Linked DNA regions of Homo sapiens. The protein of the gene in region 2 purifies or fractionates together with the protein of the main gene of each other region. This does not show direct contact. Each region holds a gene or a part of one and is shown on either strand. Other genes may lie near its edges.

Region 1 (3,657 bases), on a different chromosome or scaffold from region 2:
AAAGAGAATTCTGTTTTACTAATTTCAGTTGTGATGTAGTCAATTTTTCTCCTTGTTGGTTTTTATTCTCTTCATCACCCTCCTCATCTTGCACTACAAAGTCATCGATAATATAATCATCTCCATCTTCATCAGATTCATAATTATCCTCTTCTTCCTCCTCATCAACTTCATCACTGCTTGGGCAAGATTCCTTTTCAGAGTCCTAATTAAATTAAAATAAATGCTTCAGTAAATGGTGCTATTAAAACGGTAAGCATCGATATAAAATTAAAACATTAAATCTGACAGCAAAAAAATGATCCATAGTAATTAACTTCATATTTTAAAGTTAAAAATAAATAATTTTGTCATATTAAATGCTGAACTTTTGAAATTATTAAGAAGAATATACCTTGGTTAAGTGATGTAAAATGTTTAAAATGGACATTAGAATTATAAGAAGTTAAAAACAAGAAAGATCATATAAAATAACAAATAGTCTTTCAATTTTAAAAAAGGATGGACTGAGGCTCATGATAAAACAGTATATTACGTACAATAGTGTAATCAAACATGTTCAAGAATACTTGATTAAAAAATAAATTCTAGAATTATTGAGAAATGGAACGGACTCAGCACTTTTTTATAAAAATTAAATACTTTAAGAAAAAAACTGAAAAACAATAACAAATCCAACAAAATATAACACACCTCAAAATCTCTACCACTACTGCGTCTCTGACGAGATCTTTGTTTTGAGAGTTCTTTGAGCTTCTGAAGTTTTTCTCGCTTTTGTGCAGCTAATGTTTTTTCAGGAGTCTTTTGCTCCATTTCCACTGAAGAACCTTCATCTTCAACCACTCTACGGGGACGTTTAACACCTACTTTTCTAACTAGGATATCGCTGTCATCACTCTCATCACTGTCACACATCACAGAGGATAGCCTTTTTCTTTTTCCTCGCTTGATGTCTTCTTCTTCTAAATCATCCTCTATTATTTGTCCAGTTTGTTTGTTGAGATCATTATCCTCTTGACTTAAATGTTTTTCCTGATCATCCTCTATTATTTGTCCAGTTTGTTTGTTGAGATCATTATCCTCTTGACTTAAATGTTTTTCCTGATCTTGTAAGTCAATATTCCTATGTTTGATTTTGTTCGTTTCTTCTTCATATGTTGAACCGTTGCCAGAGTTAATGAGACACTTACTGTCATTTCCTTCACTTTGAATTTTACTTAAGTTGAGCTCTCTTTCACTTCCTGGTGTTTTATTACAATCAGGTCCCTTGTTACTATCAAGCTCTTCATCATTTTCAAAACTTTCATCACTATCAAGCTCTTCATCACTATCAAATTCTTCACTATCAAGCTCTTCATCACTATCAAGTAATTGTGAGATACTACTTCTTTTAGTTCGCCTCCAATCAACTCGAGATTTCTGCTCAGGCACGTGACTCTTAGAATTTCTCCTTGTTTCATGTCTTCTAACATGTATCATTTTCACTTAAGCTTCTATAAAATAAAGTTGTTAGGAATATAACAGTGATAACCAGATTAGAGCAATGAATGCATTTATGGTATAAATTATATTTATTTGGCTTTATTTAATGGTCCACAAACACAAAATCACATGAAATATCTGAGTGAAGATGGTAGAACATTAATTTAACAAATAATTTACTGAATGCCCATGAAATAATTATATGAACATCTACTCTGAATTACGTTGTATGTTGTGCTGCAAGGGATACATAGAAAAATCATGGTGCTGTCCTTCAGAAGATTATTATCTATATGTAGAACTAAAATATCTAAAACATATAATAATTAAGAAAATTTCAAGGTAATATTTAGTATCAAATGAATAACATAAATAACTGCAAGAGAAGTGGAAAGATGCAGGGAGATCAGTAAGGCAAGTGCTTCACTTTATCTTGAACAGATGTGATCTAATAGCATTCTGAAGGATTCATTGTATTTGAACAGAAAGAACGAAAGAAAAAGGGATGTCAGGCAAGTAATATGGTAAGGGCAAACTCTGGCTTTAAGAAAGAAGATGGTATGTTCAGTAAATAAGCATGGCTTAAAATGTATAAAAAAGAGTTTTATGCTGGAAAAAAGGAGAAAAGAATAGAAAACTGAATGGGATTACCAGGATGACTCACCCTGTAGGCAAAGGATTCTGAATAGAGAAATGATATAAAGTATAAAAGATCAATTTACACGAAGAAAGTTATAAAGTAACAAATGACATAAAGAAGACAGCAGTGAAAAATTGAGAGATAATATATCCACTAAGATTGTAGCCTCTTTATACCTTAGTAAAATGGGAGTGGCTTTCCCCTCAAAGTTAAATACACAATATAACCAATAGAAAACTTAACTAACAATCCAATAATGTAGTTAAGTGAATAAAACAAGTAAGTTCCACGGCAAAGCAGAGCATAGTATTGGGAAGGAAAACAAAAGCTGTCAGTTTATCATTTAGAAAAGAATGAATTCCATTAAAATTATCACAAGTATATATTAAAAGAACAATTAGTGACACGTAAGATAACTAGAAAAAATAACATATGTAGTTCTGTGGTTGTTAGGGAATAGAAATATGACAATGTAATGAGACCGACCTCAAACTACATGTTAGAGGTATATATTGAACTGACAGCTATCCCCACCAAAGAAATCACCTTATGAGGCTGATTATTCCAATATTTCCACCACAGCACAGAATATTCCTGGAGTCTTTCTATAAACCACACACTATAAAAAATCTAAAAATATGAAAATAATCACACTTCATTTTTTATCCCAAACAGTGACTTTAACACCCACTTCATTCACTTGTCTCGGTTATAAGGACCTGTTAGCAGCTTGCAGAAATGAAATCCAACTTAAGAAGATGAGAATTAACTACCATTAAAAATCTTCAAAAAATGTGCTGCGAATTCTGAAGGTAATTACAAAAATTCAATGCCAAAAATTTTTTGAGCAATGGGAATCTTACCGGACTATGTTTCCAGCTTTCCAAGAGGATTACTTTTTTCCTATAGATTGTGGAAGAGAGGATACAGCTCATTTAATTGTACAAATTCTGGTATGTTTATACGGCAATAAGACTTTCTGTATAATGGTTAACACCTCATGTAAAATCAGAACGGGGGCTGCCAAAATTATACAGCAGAAATTATAGCGTGTAGGATGAAATATAACTTTTATTTTTTTAAGAGATAGGTCTTGTCCTGTTGTCCAGGCTGGAGTGCAGTGGCATGATCATAGATTACTACAGCCTTGAACTCCTGGGGCTCAAGCGATATGTTTCGATTTTTAAATTTTTTGTAGAGATGGAGGTCTCACTATGTCCTGATCTCCTGACCTCAAGTGATCCTCCCACCTTGGCCTCAGTGCTGGGATTACAGGCATGAGCCATTGCCCAAAGTATAACCTTATGTCAGTAATTGCTATAAAATATAATCAGCATTGTAATAGCAATCTAACAAATTCTGGTCAACAGGGCAGTCTGCTATTTGAAATTACCCTTGGGTTGCATCTTACAAAAGGCTTATATTAAAATCAGCAAAGATGAAAATTGTGTGTAGTCAAAATTACCCTTTAAAAAAATCTCTATATTAAAGTATGGTTTTGTGTACACTATACTGCGTTACAATACGTCCACCCA
Region 2 (3,657 bases):
AGTATTTGTTGGAGCCCTTATAAGAATAGATAGTAGAGCCTTCACCTCAAGTTCAACGTTTCCAAAATCGACTCAACTCCTTTTCGCCCACCCCTGCCCTGCCCAATCCATATTGGTCCAAACATGTCTCCTGCCACTACCAAAGGAGGGAAAAGGCCACCTCTCACTGTTGCTTTCAGTAATCTGCCATGCTCCTGTTGCAGTGGTACTCACAGTGTGGTCCCAGCTCCAGCAGCTTCTGCATCCCTAGAGAATTTGTTAAAAGGCAGATTCTCAAGCCCTGCCTCAGACCCAGTGGATCAGAGTCTCTGAAAGTACTCCCATCTGTGAGTTAATAAACCCAAGGTGATTATGATGCACATTAAAGTTTGAGGACCACGGTCACAGTGATTCAGTTCCCACACCTGGAAGTAGAAATGCTGGTGGGATTTGCACATTTTTGAGCCTTAATATATTCTACCAGATTAACCTCCAAAAAGTTGTGCCAGTTTGTAATCCAGTGGCATTATATGAGTATGTCAGTTTCCTATAGCCTGACCAACACTAGAATCTGTACATGTATATATGTATGTATGTTTGTATGTTTGTAAGGCTGAATTTTTGGGTTTTGGCACATTTTTATGATGGTCTAATCTTTTTTCCCCCATTTATTATTAGTTTTTATTTATGTGTCTGTCGTTAGTAAATGAAGGTGCTCTTCACCTCAAAATATATACATAATTCACCTTTTTTTTCCCAATCTAGTATTTATTTTTTGTTTTTAGCTTGAAGGCGAGATCTATTTTTATTTCAAAGAATTAATATGTTATCCCAGAACCATTTATTAAATCCATCCTTTCACCAAGGATTTCAAATACCATGTATATCATAATAAATTCTTGGGGCTGGGTGTGGTGACTCATGCCTGTAATCTCAGCACTTTGGGAGGCTGAGGCGGGCAGATCATTTGAGGCCAGGAGTTTGAGACCAGCCTGGCCAACACAGTGAAACCCCGTCTCTACTAAAATAGAAAAAATGAGCTGGCCGTGGTGGCGCATGCCTGTAGTCCCAGCTACTCAGGAAACTGAGGTACGAGAATTGCTTGAACCCAGAAGCAGAGGTTAAGTGAGCCAAAATCACGCCACTGCACTCCAGCATAGGCGACAGAGTGAGACTGTCTCAATCAGTCAATAAATAAAAATTAATTCTTGGATATATATATCTATTTCTGAGCTTTTAATTTTTTTCCATTTTGTTATCTGTAAGGTGCTGGAGAATAAGGACCTTGTCTGTTTGGTTCATTGCCACCAGGAAGTGACTCACTACCTGTTAGACAATGGGTTCCTGCATGTATTTAACAGATCATCTGTTTCTTCCTATGTCATTGCTACATTTTTTAATTACTGTAGCTTTACAATAAATATATCATATATTGTTTTTATTTATTCTATGTGATTTCTAAATTTTCTTTGGCCAGTATAACAAAGTCTTCAAGATGAGCATCAGAAACGTTTTGTTAAGTCCAAAAACAGGACCCACTAAGAGTTTGATTAAAATATTAAATGTATGGCCTATTGGAAAGACTCATTATCTTTGCAGCATTATTTTACTGCTCAGAAACATGTTACTGCTCTGTTTTATTCAGTATATTTATTGTTTATTTATTTTAGTTTTACTTTCTTCCCTTAATAGGTGTAATAATTTTTCAAATAATTCTCTTGAGGTTTTTAGGTTTTCAATAACATTGAAATCTATAAATAATAATTTTGTCTTCTTTCCAGTATTTATTGCATTCACTAGAATTGCCACTATTAAGTAATAGTGAAAAGAATAAATTTGACCTTTTTTTTTTTATTTTTTACAGTGGAAAGTAGGCCTTAAAATTGGAAGGCCTAGGAACAGAATTGTCTGCTTAGAGCTAAAATGACAGTGATTCAGGGTAAAAAGAGGAGGAATAAAGGGAGTGGCTTTGAGGATTGTTTAACAGCCTGAATAGCACCTGTCTTTTATCATCTGAGTGACTTCATTTTAGGTCAGATCTGTACACAGGTCTGACTAAATAAGACTAAATTCAACTCTAGAACCAGGAGTAACATCATAAATGGTGGACATTACCTTTTTCAAGCATCAAATCACAAGCAGTTCTCTGTACAATCAAATTGCATGGTTAAAGAGTTTAGAATTATTTTTGTGTAGATTTCTGCCTTATAGAATTAGCGCCTTCCTATATACATTATCATTGAATTCAAAGTGTGAGGTCTTCCTGTATTTGAGATATAATTGATCCTTTTGGTAAGAGGAAACAGTGGCACCTAGATTGGGAATAAAGACAGAACAAAGAACCACAGAACTGCTTCATGTGCTAAATAATTGCAGGGTTTAGCATTAATGGAATTTGTTTTAATATCTCAGCCTGATTATAACTCAAGCAGTGTACAAAGACCTTGTTATACAACTCAGGAAACTGTGTTTATAATGATACAGAATTTAGAATGGATTAATAGTCACAACTGTATTACCAAAAACTGTATCAGTACATCTTTCTATCCCTAATTGCTGTGCAGATTCGCCCTATTCTTTATACGTCGTTTTTATATTTAGTGGCACAGCTCATTTGGTCGATTGAGTTGTGAATAGCTAGTAATTACTTGAGAAAAAAAGAAAACTGTGCAGCCCTCTAAATAAAGTTGAAAAGAATATAATAGGCTATTTGGCCTTGCAACTTTATTTTCAGTATGATTGTTCTGCCTTACTTGTGTATTCTGTGCAAATTTCATAAAGCAGTTATTTTATACAAGCACATTTTTATTGGTCATTGTATACCGTAATTGTGCTGGCACAGTTCATCCCTTTGCCATAGTTGCCGTTGCTGTCTTGCCTTCAGTTTATTGGCCTCTTACATGCCCTGTCTGCTGGCTTTGTGTGGTTATTTGCTTATAGATGGATTTGTAAATGTCAAACTGGTAAATAGTTACACCTGTGATTAAGGAGGAATGGTATACTGCGCACGAAATATTGACCAGTGGCATATGATCTGAATGATATGCCTGGGGAGATAGTGTCTACTAATGAGATAAATTGACACAAATGGTTGGGTTATTTGCTGAATTATCAAATACCTACTATTACCTGACTTTTCTTTTTGATCATAAATCTTCTGTATTAAAAAATGTTTCAAAACTCCATTCTTCTAATCAGATCCAGTGTAAAGATGTGAAGAGTTCAAGATCTCAGCATAACGTGAGATCTTCAACACTACCATCAACCAAAAAAAGGGAAGGGGGAAATTAACGTTATTGAGAAAAGACAGAGGAGACACAGAGGTCAGCAAGGATGCAAGAAACCAAGGATGAAGAGGTCAAAGAATTAGATTTTAAGATACGAACTGAATAACAAGAGCTACCTCTTAACCATTTCTACGTTGGTGACTTTGGTAGTAGACACCCAGTACGTGCTATTGAGTGAACAGTGGTAACTGTCTACCAACCACTTGCACTAGCAGACTCCAGTGCCTCCACCTCCCTCACCCCTCACGTCCTGTAAGTTGCACTTGACTCTACACCTGAACCATGTCATTAGTTTCTCCTCCTTTCCCTTTCCACTGCTACCACTCTGCTTCAAAGATGGTAATGCAAACATGATCACCTTTCCTTCCTAATCTTCTCTCTTCTCATTAAA

What was found. Proteins that work in one complex are often made in the same cells at the same time.
Region 1: the proteins of NETO2 (region 2) and CCDC82 purify together in Homo sapiens (affinity purification with mass spectrometry; one large-scale study listed by BioGRID and IntAct). This does not show direct contact.

The regions. Positions count from the first base shown.
Region 1 is NC_000011.10:96,383,269-96,386,925, forward strand, and holds part of CCDC82 (coiled-coil domain-containing protein 82), read right to left. Parts: exon of another isoform or gene 3,026-3,657; 5' UTR 2,986-3,025; exon of another isoform or gene 2,669-2,985; intron 1,494-2,668; 5' UTR 1,480-1,493; coding exon 694-1,479; intron 206-693; coding exon 1-205.
Region 2 is NC_000016.10:47,133,931-47,137,587, reverse strand, and holds part of NETO2 (neuropilin and tolloid-like protein 2 isoform 1 precursor), read left to right. Parts: intron 1-3,352; exon of another isoform or gene 3,353-3,518; intron 3,519-3,657. UniProt on the Homo sapiens protein: Accessory subunit of neuronal kainate-sensitive glutamate receptors, GRIK2 and GRIK3.